4 linked regions of the Homo sapiens genome follow. The protein of the gene in region 1 purifies or fractionates together with the protein of each later gene. This does not show direct contact. Each region holds a gene or a part of one and is shown in the gene's direction. Other genes may lie near its edges.

Evidence for each region. Proteins that work in one complex are often made in the same cells at the same time.
Region 2: the proteins of FLRT1 (region 1) and TMEM209 purify together in Homo sapiens (affinity purification with mass spectrometry; one large-scale study listed by BioGRID and IntAct). This does not show direct contact.
Region 3: the proteins of FLRT1 (region 1) and FGFR1 purify together in Homo sapiens (affinity purification with western blotting; 2 studies listed by BioGRID and IntAct, with this or other methods). This does not show direct contact.
Region 4: the proteins of FLRT1 (region 1) and PCDHGC3 purify together in Homo sapiens (affinity purification with mass spectrometry; 2 studies listed by BioGRID and IntAct, with this or other methods). This does not show direct contact.

Annotation. Positions count from the first base shown.
Region 1 is NC_000011.10:64,038,931-64,042,430, forward strand, and holds part of FLRT1 (leucine-rich repeat transmembrane protein FLRT1), read left to right. Parts: intron 1-3,500.
Region 2 is NC_000007.14:130,198,907-130,202,406, reverse strand, and holds part of TMEM209 (transmembrane protein 209), read left to right. Parts: intron 1-315; coding exon 316-557; intron 558-2,110; exon of another isoform or gene 2,111-2,563; intron 2,564-3,500. UniProt on the Homo sapiens protein: Nuclear envelope protein which in association with NUP205, may be involved in nuclear transport of various nuclear proteins in addition to MYC.
Region 3 is NC_000008.11:38,416,636-38,420,135, reverse strand, and holds part of FGFR1 (fibroblast growth factor receptor 1 isoform 1 precursor), read left to right. Parts: intron 1-400; coding exon 401-603; intron 604-1,762; coding exon 1,763-1,908; intron 1,909-2,144; coding exon 2,145-2,266; intron 2,267-2,719; coding exon 2,720-2,830; intron 2,831-3,500. UniProt on the Homo sapiens protein: Tyrosine-protein kinase that acts as a cell-surface receptor for fibroblast growth factors and plays an essential role in the regulation of embryonic development, cell proliferation, differentiation and migration.
Region 4 is NC_000005.10:141,478,966-141,482,465, forward strand, and holds part of PCDHGC3 (protocadherin gamma-C3 isoform 1 precursor), read left to right. Parts: intron 1-3,500. UniProt on the Homo sapiens protein: Potential calcium-dependent cell-adhesion protein. May be involved in the establishment and maintenance of specific neuronal connections in the brain.

The DNA of each region.
Region 1 (3,500 bases):
ACCCACGTTGAGAGGATGCGTATGAGGTTTCTAGCAGAGTTCATGCCTAGCAATGTGGGGCCCTTGCCTAGTCTACACCCCTCGTTCACTGTGGGCCAAGGGCTTTCAGCTTCTTCAGGCCTTGGGGTGGCAGGGAGGACTGAGGTGGCCCTCATCCCCTGCAGGCAGGGGCCATCCACTCTGGTACCTGGCCCAAGGGGCAGTGGGAAATGCCCCAGAGCAAGGGGGAGCTGGAGGGCTTTTGCTGAGGCCCCTTATAGGATGGGGTGCGTGAGGCATGTGGGTGAGCGAGCGTGGGTGGACAAGAAGGGGCGTGGGTGTGGCGAGGGTGCTAACTGCCTATAGTGGGGTGGGTGGGGACTGCCCCGGGGGTAGCTTTCCCTGCTCACTGGCAGAGGAGAGCGCCAGCCTCTGGGAGGCCCAGGCCCCAGGCCCTGGCTGCTGCCCCCGGTGTACTGCCTTCCAAGTGTGTTTGAGGTCGGGTGGTAGCGGGGGGTCCCTCCTCAGAACCTGTGTTGTTCTGCCGGAGACAAAGTTCAGGCTCTGGCTGGCCCACGAGGCAGCTGCATTCTGTCCTCTGCCATGGGACACTCACCCTGAGAGGGCCAGGGCTGTGGTGTGGGGCAGACTGGATGGCCGGGAGGAGACGGGAAAAGGACAGCACCCCTGTTTTGCCCTCCTCCCCCCGGACAGCCTGCCTGGAGTTCTCTGGCAGCAGCTGGAGACACCAAGAGGGTTCCATGGAGCAGGCTGTGTTTGTGCAGGCCTGTGTTTGCCTGTTTACCATCGCTCGAGGCCCCCAGAGCACTGCCGCTCCCCGGGGCCAGCGGCTCTGCAGATGATGTCAGGGTTTGGGGGCCTCTCCTTGCTTTGTGGAGGTTGTTTGCTGGATTCCTGCAGCCCTGGGTTTTAAAATGACAACCTGCAGAGCTGGTGGCTAGTGAGGGTGGGGGAGAGGACAGGGAGGAGGATGGGTGGGAGTTTGGGGCTGAAGCCATGGAGGATAAATGGGCTGGCCCACCAGTGCTCCTCTGGCACGCCTGGCTCCCTGGCTCTTCTGTTTTCCCTTCCCTCACTCCTTCCCTCCTTTCCTGCTCATTCATTCATTCATTCATTCATTCTTGAGATAATCATTGAGCATTAGTTATTGCCAGGCACAGTGCTGGGCTCTGGGACAAAAGTGGGGAACAAAAGCAGTGGGTGTCTTGCCCTCAGGGCGCTTCCAGTCAGATGTGGTGTCAGACATTAGTCAGATCTACCTCTTCCCCGTGAAGCCTTGGCTCTGAAGGCGCAAAGTGGTGAGGTCAAGTAACAGAGGGGCCTGCTGAGGGGTGGGATTGAGGGGGACTTCCCAGGGAAGGGGGTGCTTAAGACATGAAGAGTGAGCTGGAGCCAGGGAAGGGCAGGGACAGAAACAAGGGCCTGGAGGACAGGATGGATGGAGAGGGCTGCATGGAGACCCCCGGCAGGAGGGCAGAGGGGCTCAAGGCACCCGGCCAGGGCTGGGGCTGGTGGGCTGTCTCCCTGGGTCTCTGTGGCCCATCCATCCCCAGCTCTCTCAGGATTCCTGGGTCTGCCTCAGGGACCCTCTGCCTGTCCTTGCAGATGGGCCTCTGGAAGAGTGGGCTTCCTAGGCCCGGGATGCCAGGTCCCCTTTTCCCGAGAGCTGTGTGTTCACCTGCGTAGACAGGTTGCCCCAGCATCTGATGGGCTGTGAGACAAATGTGGGCTTGTTTATGACGGGGGCGGTAGCCCTGGGTGGACCGAGAGCTATTAGTGATGAAGGAGAGTCCGCAGAAACCCTCCCCAGCCCTGAATGTTCCCGGTGCAGGGAAGTGGGCTGGGGTGCAGGCAGAGGGAGAAGGGAGTGAAGGGGCTGTGTCCTGGAGGGCCCCGGACCCGGCTGTATGGGGCTCAGCTAGCCACTAGGGGACACTGCCTCCCAGGCAGACCGCAGGACCCAGGCATCCGACGTCCGGCCAGGCCCCAGGTGTGGCAGGCTCTGCTTCAAGGGGTCAAAGGGCATCCTCATGGGCAGACGGGGTCTATTGTCTGGCTGGCAGGGAGGCAGTGGCCGGGCTGGTTGGGGATGGCTTATACTTAATTAAAACTGGGATTAAAACTGGGGTCACGGGGCGCTAGTCCTGGCCATTCCTGCCCGCGTCACTCTCCAGAGGCAGCTCTGTGGCAGTATTTTTTTCACGCCCCTTTCCCTCCTTCTGCCTGAATTAATCGTTGGCACCAGATTACAACAGATTTAGCAAACTGTAAAAAAAAAAAAAAAAAAAAAAAAAAAAAAGCATGAGCGAGAGAGGAAGAGAGAAAAGAAAGGAGGGAATGCCTTCCGTGAGGAGCCGGCATTTATCTCCAGAAGCAAATTGCTCTTCTTGAACCATTCCTGCTGCCCCCCACCCCTCCACCCCCCGTGACGCCTGGGAAATGCTGCTCGGGAAAATGTCCTCAAAAATGCTGCCGGGTGCTGGAACCAGGAGGGGCTTTTCCTGGGGGAGGTCAGCCAGGGGCTGAGGAGGAGAGGAGAGCTCAGGGGAGTGAGGAGGGTGCCCGGGGCTGCTCTGGAGGGTGTGTTGGGGGACACCTGGCTGGTTCTGAGTGGTCGCAGAGGTGGGGCTTCGTGTAGGGCAGAGCGAGTGAACAGATGAATGAATGGAAAAAGGGGTGCAGCCAGGACCGAATGACCGCCTCGGGAGCTGGTGTGGTGGCAGTGGAGGGTCCAGCCTGCCCATCAGGATTCCTAGGGACAAAATCCGAGGGACTGAGCTCTCTCAAGCGACATAGCATCTTGGGTCTTGGATCCAATTCCACTTCTCTCTGGTCAGACCAGAGGGGGCCTGGCTTTGGTTCAGGGAATCTGGCTGTTAGGGGGTGGGTGTCTGGCCCTAGGGACATGGCAAGTCGCAGAGGGTCACGGGAGTTTCACCTCAAGGCTGAGGGTGCCCCGCCCAGTTAAAGCACAGGAGTGAGATTCGGTGGGCTGAGAGCCCCTGGGCTCCTAGCCTGGGCTGGGCTGCCCCACCCTGAGTGGGGACTTGGGTTCAGTGGGGGGCAGTTAGGGGCCCACCCTTCCTTCTTCGCTCACTCACTCTCTCGGGCAGCGGCCATGGTGGGCCAGGCCTGGAGCTGGCCACAGGGAAGGTGGCGGTGGCCCAGTCCAGTGGGACCAGGCGGGAGGGGGAGACAGATGTGCACCACGCTCACACCTCTGGTGGGCACACATGCACCTTCATGCACACACTCTTGCACACACATGCTCACACCTAACCCACCTTCCTCTCCTGTCTTCCCTGAGCCAGCCTGAGCCAGGCTCTGAGGTGAATGAAGCCCACATCTCACCCCCACCTCTGGAAGCTGCCACGAGGAAGGGGCTGGAGTGGCTGCCCCACCCTTCCCGTGCAGTCCCCTGCCCTTCCTGCCCCCAGACAGTGGCCATCTGTTGCCCAGGCCTGGACCCCTCTCTGGGGAATGGGGGGGTGTGAAGGAAT
Region 2 (3,500 bases), on another chromosome or scaffold:
AAATTGTCTTATGACCAATGATTATCATTCCTACTTGTATACATTCAGCTATTTCATGGAAGTTTGTTCCATTGTTCAGGTGCAATTAAAATTAAATGACTAACTTGCTGAGTTGAAACCAGTTTCTAATTTTGCACTCTGGAAATGGTAAACACGTAATTTGTGTCCTTTGGTAATAATACATTCTGTGATTTAACAACCAAGTAACTCTGTTAACTTTTTTCCCTTAAGAGAAAGACTTAGTTGCTTAAATATATTTTCGTATAATTTTATTTGAAGGTACATACACATATGTTGCTTTTTTTTTCCTTCTAGTTGTACAGACTACGCCTCCACATGATCTGGCAGCAACCCAAATCCCTCCCGCTCCACCTTCCCCTTCAATTCAGGGTCAGAGTGTGTTGAGTTATAGCCCTTCTCGTTCGCCCAGTACCAGTCCCAAGTTCACCACCAGCTGTATGACTGGTTACAGCCCTCAGCTGCAAGGTCTGTCCTCAGGTGGCAGTGGTTCTTATAGCCCTGGAGTGACCTACTCGCCCGTCAGTGGTTATAATAAGGTAATGACTCTCTTCTCTTGTCTAGTCACATTATTTTAGAATTGAGAGGTATACTAAAAATCATCTAATGAGTCAAAACTTATCAGTGAGCAAACTGAGAGTTGATTTGCCCAGAACACCCATTTAAAAACCGAGAATAGAACATAATATCTTAAACACAACATCTTAAAATGAAAGAGAAAAAATTAGCATTTACAGAGATAACAAACTTAGTGCACCATCTACGATCTTTCAGCTGTCTTTAAAACAAGTTGAAACAAGGATAATTTTTTACTTTAGTTGCTTTTACTCCTGTTTTCCCTCTTGCTTTCCTTCTTCATGTGAGGCCTTTGTATACCTTTTTAGAGTTTTAGTGTGGTTTATCATGTTGGAGTGTCTTCTAAGCTAAAAGCTGAGATTGTCACATAGTTTCTTTTTTTTTTCCAATGAGTACAAATGATTCTTGAATATGGACGCTTTCCATGGAATAGTAGGAACCTTCATTTCCACTCCCACAGTAATGTGAAATTTTGTTCTAATTTTTAGGATTAATAGAAACAGGATTGACAAATTGAAATTTTGACTCCTTCTTGAAGCATAAAACTATTAATATAAGGGGGCGTTGAAAGAAGAGTGGTCATTTCAGATGCTGTCGCTACTGTGTTCGACTAACATCTCTGTAGCTGCTAGTTAAAAGAGGAGTCTCTGGAGATGAAACTGACACATTGTCTGCCCTTATCCATTTACATATTTCTTTTTTTTTTTTTTTTTTTTTTTTTTTTGAGACAGAGTCTCGCTCTGTTGCCTAGACTGGAGTGCAGTGGCGTGATCTCAGCTCACTGCAAACTCCGCCTCCCGGGCTCATGCCATTCTCCTGCCTCAGCCTCCCGAGTAGCTGGGACTACAGGCGTCCACCACCGTGCCCGGCTAATTTTTTGTACTTTCAGTAGAGACGGGGTTTCGCCATGTTAGCCAGGATGGTCTCGATCTCCTGACCTTGCGATCTGCCCTCCTCGACCTCCCAAACATTTACACATTTCTTTGTAATGAAATTCCATACTACTGGTTATCCAATATTAAAATTAATTTTGGCAGGTAATAGAATTTTGAAAATTTTGTACAAGTTAAATTTTTATGAGAAAGTATATATGTAGTGAAAATTAATAACTCATAGGTAAATGTGACTTTTAAAAATAATTTTTCACAAGATGATACTATATGATCCTTATAGAAAATTGGAAAAGTAAAACAGAAGGAAAATTATTATAGTCCTGCCACACAAAAATAATCTGTTTAATGGCTATTTAATACTCATCTAATGGATATACCATAATTTACTCTTGAATGTTTAAGTCATTTTCATTTATAAAAAAACTTTTTAATGTATACTAAATAGCCCTGTACATAAAATTATTGATAAATTTGGGATGGGAGTGTCGATCCAAAAGAATTGTACCAATTTACATTGTCACAGAAATGTAGAAGAGTGTTTGTTTTACCACACTGTTGACCATCAAGTTAATTTTTTAAAAAAATAAATCTCTGCTAATAAGAAACATGACAATAGTCTATCGTAACTTTTAACATACATTTATTTCAAAGCCGCATAGCTAAATCAGGAAGTTCTCGTGCTTTACTCGCTTGTCTTTTGGGTCTGTATCCTCTGATTTTTTTTCTTGGGTTGCTGTTTAATTATAGAGTTTAATATATATATATATAGAGAGAGAGAAACTTTAAATGTTTAATAGTCCTATCTGTTTATCTCCTTGTGGTTTGCTCTGTTTTTAAATTTAGAAATTTTCTTACTTTCAGAATTGATTCCCCTCCCCACCATAATATAAGATGATAATTTTCTCATTTTTGTTTTTTGCTAAAATTGATAACTAGTTGTCCCAATATTATAAATTATTTTTACCTTGATTGACTTGGAGCCTCCTTTGAATTACATGTGATTTGTCTTTTTCGGGGTGATTCTGTTCACTTGCTGTGTTTTTAGTGCTGTGTGTAGCAGTTTCATTGTGGACTGACTGTTAGAAGAGTTAACAAAAAATGTTAAATACTATTGCATTTTTGCTTCAAAAACAGATAAATCATAGCTTATGTTCTATTTGTACAAAAGAAGTGACACCACCAAAATATAATTTTTATTTTTAAAGAAATAATTTTTTTCTTATGTTAACTCTCCCTTTGTACCCACTCTTTTCCAGTCATTTCTTCTGCCTTGTACATCTTTGTATTTATAAGTTAGAGGGAAAAAATAATGAGTTGAGTTTTTTTTACCTTAGTAATCTTTCTTTTTTTAAAATCTTAAAAGATATGTCAGGAAATTATCAAAAGAAAGTAAAGGTGACGGCTGGGCGCAGCGGGTCACGCCTGTAATCCCAGCACTTTGGGAGGCCGAGGCAGGCGGGTCACAAGGTCAGGAGATCAAGACCATCCTGGCTAACATGTTGAAACCCTGTCTCTACTAAACAAAATACAAAAAATTAGCCAGGTGTGGTGGCGGGCGCCTGTAGTCGCAGCTACTCGGGAGGCTGAGGCAGGAGAATGGCGTGAACCAGGAAGGCGGAGCTTTCAGTGAGCCGAGATGGCTCGCTGCACTCCAGCCTGGGCGACACAGCAAGACTCTGTCTCAAAAAAAAAATAAAAAAATTAAAAAGGTGACAAAGGCATATCAGGAAAGCATAAAAATAAGGTGGTAGTATTAACAATGAATAACTTTAGAGGAGGAAGAATTATATGAGACAAAAGGTCATTTTAAGTTGATGGAAGAAATAATAAAATAATAGTTAGATTCACAATCCCTGTATATTGAATAATACAGCATCATAAAATGTAAAACAAAAACCTTTAGAAACATGAAATCAATAAACACAATTGTATTGGAAGACTTTAGCATTATCAATGTCTGATAAAGTAGGCAACAAATAAGGACACAAAAGATTGGAACAGTAAAATTTAATA
Region 3 (3,500 bases), on another chromosome or scaffold:
CTGAGGCTTTGCAGAGAAGGGCCATGGCTCCCTGAGGAGACCAAGAAAGGCACATAGAAGTGACTTCTCAGCTGGCCCTTGCAGGATCCCTGGGTGCCTGTACCTCTCCAGTCCAGCTGAGCAAGGAGGCTCAGGAATTAATGAAGATGGGGCTTGTGTAGCACGATGGTTCTAGGCCATCCCTTTTCCATGGCTCAAGTCCATTGAAGGCAGCCTCCAAAATCAGGGGGTTGCCTGATCCTCCTAGTGCCACAATCCCAGTCCTAGCTAGAACTTGCCATGGTTCTTCTCCCTAAAAGTTCCCAGGGGACAGGAGACAGGTGTTGCTTTTCTAATGGAGCGGGACCTCGCATGGACGGGGCCCTCCAAGCCTGCTAACACCCTGTTCGCACTGACTCAGCCCTGGAAGAGAGGCCGGCAGTGATGACCTCGCCCCTGTACCTGGAGATCATCATCTATTGCACAGGGGCCTTCCTCATCTCCTGCATGGTGGGGTCGGTCATCGTCTACAAGATGAAGAGTGGTACCAAGAAGAGTGACTTCCACAGCCAGATGGCTGTGCACAAGCTGGCCAAGAGCATCCCTCTGCGCAGACAGGTAACAGAAAGTAGATGGGGGATTTGCACACTCAGCACCACCTCTCTCTCTGGGCCTCTAATGCCCTGCCCTCTCCATTGTCCCTAATTTATAGCTTTGGGCCTTATTTTCTGGCTTCTGGGCAAGGCACAGTGGAATATCATGAACTAAGTGCTCTAGAGTCTGTTTCAAGCTAGTGTAGCCCGTGAATTTCCTGCACCCTCCATATCACACTGCAAGTCCTCCGGACTCCTGGGACATGGATTGGGAGGAAGTCCTATTTGGACAGAATGTGCAGCCAATAGCATGAATTTGAACTGTCCCCAAGGGCTGCTTAGAAGTGCAGAGATGCAGGGTAGAGAAGAGAACTGTTTGTATTAGTCCATTTTCACACTGCTGAGAAAGACATACCCAAGACCGGGCAATTTACAAAAGAAAGAGGTTTAATGGACTCACAGTTCCACGTGGCTGGGGAGGCCTCACAATTGCAGAAGGCAAAAGGCACGTCTCACATGGCGGCAGACGAGAAGAGAGCTTGTACAGGGAAACTCCCCTTTATAAAATCATCAGATCTCGTGAGATTTATTCACTATCACAAGAACAGCACAGGGAAGACCTGCCCCCATGAGTCAATGACCTCCTACCAGGTCCCTCCCATAACACGTGGGAATTCAAGATGAGATTTGGGTGGGGACACAGCCAAACCATCTCAGCCATACCATACCCTTGTCCCCTGTGTGCCCACCCTTCCCCACGGGAGGAAATGGTACAGATGGCACAGGTGTGTGCAAGAATGACCGTTCCCTCAGAAGCCTGTGCTCATTCTGGAAGGTGCTTTGGGAGTTAGGAATCCATAAGCTAAGGCAAAGTATTTGCAAAGAGTCAGGAGAACAGAGTTGTTACTGCAATGATCAGTTATAAAATGTCAAGCTGGAAGAGGTGCATTTGGTCTGCTTATTTTAAAGGTGAGTGAAGTCCAGAAAGGCCAGCTTGTGGCAGAAATAGGTCAGTCCTAGAAGTTGGGCCTCCTGGCCTACCATGGTCTTTGGACCACTCTGTGTTGAGGAAAGAACATCAGATACACAGACATGTGCCTCTGCCATTGTTGGGAAGCCCTGACTAAGAATGGGAAGGAGTCACCCCGTCCCCCCTCCTTGCTCTAGGGTGACCCCACTCTTCCTTGCAGGTGTCTGCTGACTCCAGTGCATCCATGAACTCTGGGGTTCTTCTGGTTCGGCCATCACGGCTCTCCTCCAGTGGGACTCCCATGCTAGCAGGGGTCTCTGAGTATGAGCTTCCCGAAGACCCTCGCTGGGAGCTGCCTCGGGACAGGTAATAATACTTTGACTCCCAACTTTTTGAAGGCATTCCTTGCTTGCTATTCTAGTGGTGGAAGGTGTGTATACTAACACCTTCTGGGCGGTGAAGGTTCATGAAATGCCTGCAGAAACATTCATTCCACTTTCTGCTCGCAGTTGGGTGAAATACAGAGAGGTGGAGATGGGGTGCCTCTCAAGGTTTGAACTTCACCAGCCCCAACTTATGCCACTCTCTGTTTCCCCCGAAAGACTGGTCTTAGGCAAACCCCTGGGAGAGGGCTGCTTTGGGCAGGTGGTGTTGGCAGAGGCTATCGGGCTGGACAAGGACAAACCCAACCGTGTGACCAAAGTGGCTGTGAAGATGTTGAAGTGTAAGTGATGCTTCTGTCCTTGCAAAGAAAATCTTGTCCCATTCCAAGCAAACAGCAGGCCTCGGGCCCAGCAGAACAGCTTCTCTGGTGCCTTTGCTGCCCACACCTGCTCCGCTGCCTGCTTGGGGTTACCTGGGAGTGGAGGGGGTGTTCTGCACCTTGAGATTGTTCTATGACGTCACTCTGTTCCTTGGCGTCAACCTGGGCTGTGGTCAGGTGTTTATCCTGGATCCATCGCTTGCAGGCTTTCCTCACCACATCCCTGCCCACTCACTACCACCTATTGCAACAACGGCTCCCATGAGAGGGAAGAGAAAACAAGTTTGGATGAAGTGGGGAGGAGAGAATCAAGTCCCAGGGAAAAGCAGCCCCTCGACACATACCCCACTCCCTTAGCCTTTATCCTGCCCTCCTCCCTTCCCAAGTAAATGAGTCTCAACGTGTTCTTTAAAGCGGACGCAACAGAGAAAGACTTGTCAGACCTGATCTCAGAAATGGAGATGATGAAGATGATCGGGAAGCATAAGAATATCATCAACCTGCTGGGGGCCTGCACGCAGGATGGTGGGTGCCGGCCAGACTGGCTTTCCCTGCCCAGCGGGGAGAAGATCTGAGCTGGGGTATCAGTCCCAAGGCCTCTCTCAGCCACAGCTAGGGAAGGGGGTTAAGAGAGGCTGCTTTGGCAGAGGTTTAAAATGTGTTATCTCGGGATCTGGGCTCCGCTCATTGGTGTTCATTCAGGAATACAGATACCTAGATTCACACACGTGGTGTGTTAACAGAGGCAGCTGAGTAATTATGGTCTAAGAGCGCTCAGGCTGGGTGCAGTGGCTCATGCCTGTAATCCCAGCAATTTGGGAGGCCGAGGCAGGAAGATCACTTGAGATCAGGAGTTCGAGACCAGTCTGGTCAAAATGGTGAAACCCCATCTCTACTAAAAAATACAAAAGTTAGCCAGGCATGGTCACGCATGCCTATAATCCCAGCTACTCAGGAGGCTGACGCATAAGACTTGCTTGAACCCGGGAGGTGGAGGTTGCAGTGAGCCAAGATCACGCCATTGTACTCCAGCTTGGGAGATACTCCCGCTGTCTCAAAAATAAAATAAATAAATAGGCCAGGCACAGTGGCTCACGCCTGTAATCCCAGCACCTTGGGAGGGTGAGGCGGGTGGATCACTTGAGGTCAGGAGTTGGAGACCAGCCTGGCCAACAGGTGAAACCCCATCTCTACT
Region 4 (3,500 bases), on another chromosome or scaffold:
TTTCAAGTGATTGTGACATTTGTATTAAAACTAATAGCTTTTTGATAATTTTCCTTTGTTTATACAGATCGTGTACCTCATTCTCAGATAATTTTTTATGAATGAAATGAAATTCCAGGCATCCTTTAAATTTTATTTCAAGCATTCTACTGGAAATGATGTGCACCCTGCTTACAAAATATTTTTACCTTATAACAGTAATGCATGTTTGCTAGAAAATTCAGAAAATACAGAAAAGTATTTAAAAAATTAAAACTATAATCTCCAAACCCAAAGATAACCATTTTTAATTATAAAAGTAATAATTTATTTCAAAAATAAATCTAGGCAACCCAAGAAAACATAAAGTAGCCAGACTCAGTGGTGTGCACCTGTAGTTCTTGCTGCTCAGTGCCTGAGGTGGGAGGATTGCTTGAGCCCAGGAGTTCTGGGCTGTGGTGCACTATGCTGATCAATTGATCAATCCACTGTCTGCACTAAGTTCAGCATGAATACAGTGACCTCTTGGGAGGGCAGGACCATCAGGTTGCCTAAAGAGGGGTGAACTGGCCCAGGTTGGAAGTGGAGAAGGTCAAAACTGCTGTGCTATCCAGTAGTGGGATGACATCTGTGAATAGCCACTGCACTCCAGCCTAGGCAATATAGGGAAACCATGTCTCTTTAACAATAACAACAACAACAACAACAATCCCAGAAACTACAAAAGGAGAGTCTTTTTGGTGCCTCCAGTGTTAGTCCCTGTCCTTCCAGCCTTATTTTTCTTAAGTATATGCACAATGTGAAAGGTAGATAAATTCATATCCTTAGACAGGTAAAGCATTCATTAATTCAGGGTGGTATGCAAGGATACTATCCAAGGCATGGTATCCATGCAAGGTGACTGCAAGGCCTTTGCCCTGGAGAGAACCCTATACATACTCTCAACTGTAGGAGAAACACTGTTATTTTGTTACTCAGTGCATCATTGCTATCAACTCTTGGATTTGGCAGTTAGTCAAATGAGGTTCTACCATTTACCAACTAGGAGTCTGTGGCCAAGTTACTCAATCTCCTTTCTAAGCCTCTTCCTCATATGCAAAAAGGGAATAATAAGTGTTTTATAAGATTCATGCATGATATAATGTATGCAAAGTGTTTAGCATGGTGCCTGGCATATCATAACTGTTAAACAATTATTAGCCAGCTCCTAGCATTTTGGGAGGCTGAGGCAGGCGGATTGCTTGAGGCCAGCAGTTCAAGACCAGCCTGAGCGACATAGTGAGATCCTGTCTCTACAAAAAAAAAAAAAAATGTGTTTTCATTAGCTGGGTGTGTTGGCATGCACCTGTGGTACCAGCTACTTGGGAGGCTGAAGTGGGAGAATTGCTTGAGCCTGGGAGGTTGAAGCTACAGTCAGCTGTGATTGCACCACTACACTTCAACCATGGCAATAGAGTGAGACCCTGTCTCAAAAAAAAAAATTATCAGCTATTACTATAATTATTTTTATTAGTTCCTCACTCACCTAAAATCTCAAACACACCTTAGAAATACACATATGAGAACAACCAAAAATGACAAAGTAGAAGCACATATGAAAAGGCTAAGAAAGCATGAAAGCCAGCAAGAAATAACTGCCGCTCTTCTGGTCAGCCTGGAAAGCAACTGGCATTTTCCCTAGAACAATGTTTTCAAACTTGGTTGCACATTAAAATCACCTAGAGACCTTTTAAAAATTCTGAAACCCAGGCCACACCCCGACAAATGAAAGCACAGTCTCTGGGGGTGGGACATAGGCATCATTTTTTGAAGGTCCCCACTTGATCCTAATGTGCAGACAAATTTGAAAACCACAGCTTTGGGAGGCTGAGGTGGGTGGATCATAAGATCAGGAGTTTGAGACCAGCCTGGCCAATATGGTGAAACCCCGTCTCTACTAAAAATGCAAACATTAGCTGGGCATGGTGGCGCATACCTGTAGTCCCAGCTACTCTAGAGGCTGAGGCGGAAGCATCAGTGAGGGAGAATCAGTGAACCCAGGATGTGGAAGTTTCAGTGAGCCCAGATCACACCACTGCACTCCAGCCTGGGCGACAGAGCGAGACTCCACCTCAAAAACAAAAAGAAAGAAAGAAAAAAGAAAAGCAGTACTCTGGAACCTACCAATCCATCATTTAGCATATTTGTGAAGTAAAGTGTTATTCTGGTATTTGCAGAACCAGAATCCAGCTTTATTGGGCCAGGCCCAATTTTTTTAAAAAACATGGTAAGGTCTCCCAGCCTTAAAGTATTACATAGCATAGCTCTAAAAGATCACTGTAGGAAGACATAAAATGGTATTTCAGTCATCTAAGGGAAAAACCTTCCTAAAGCACTAGCCCCTGGACAACTATTATTTAAACATCTACAGCTGTTCAATAGATATTGGGTTCTTTTTGGAGGGATGTGACAAAATTCTTGTATAATTAGATTGTGATGATGATTGTATCAGTTTAGTACATGTAAATACACTGAAAACCATTGGATTATACACTTTAAATATGTGATTTGCATGGTATGTGAATTATGTCTCAGTAAAAATCTAGAGATGGGGCTGGGCTCAGTGGCTCACGCCTGTAATCCCAGTACTTAGGGAGGCTGAGGCCAGCGGATCACCTGAGGCCAGGAGTTCAAGACCGGCCTGGCCAACATGGTGAAACTTCATCTCTACTAATAATACAAAAATCAGGCCGGGCCTGGTGGCTCACGCCTGTAATCCCAGCACTTTGGGAGGCGGAGGCGGGCGGATCACGAGGTCAGGAGTCCAAGACCAGCCTGGCCAACATGGTGAAACCCCGTCTCTACTAAAAATACAAAAATTCACCAGGCGTGGTGGCTGAGGCAGGAGAATCGCTTGATGGTGGAGGTTGCAGTGAGCCGAGATCGCGCCACTGCACTCCAGCCTGGGTGAAAGAGCGAAACTCCATCTCAAAAAAAAAAAAAAAAAAAAAATCAGCCAGATGTGGTGGCAGGTGCCTGTAGTCACAGCTACTTGGGAGGTTGAAGCAGGAGAATCGCTTTATCTCAGGAAGCAGAGGTTGCAGTGAGCCAAGATCATGCTGTTGCATTCCAGCCTGGGCAACAAGAACAAAACTCACTCCATCTCAAAAAAAAAAAAAAAATATCTAGAGATGGGAGAATCATATGGCTGGCATAAAAAGGTCAAGTCAAAGATATGTAAGATTAAGGCTTTACGATGCTCCAGTTCTAGTAAAACAGACCAGGTACTTGTTTTGGTGTGAAATTGCCAATATAAGTATAGTACTGTACATATTAGTTGTTTAGCTTAGGTAAGTCTTTTAATCTCTTTAAACTCCAGTTTCCTCATCTATAAAATAAAGAGAATATCTACTTTGCAAACTTGTTGTGAGAGTGAAAAGTAATGCATATAAAGTCCCTGTATGGAGCAAGTACTCAATAACTATTTGTTGAACTAAAAATGATAATACTGATATTCACCATTTATTAGCATCCCTATGTGC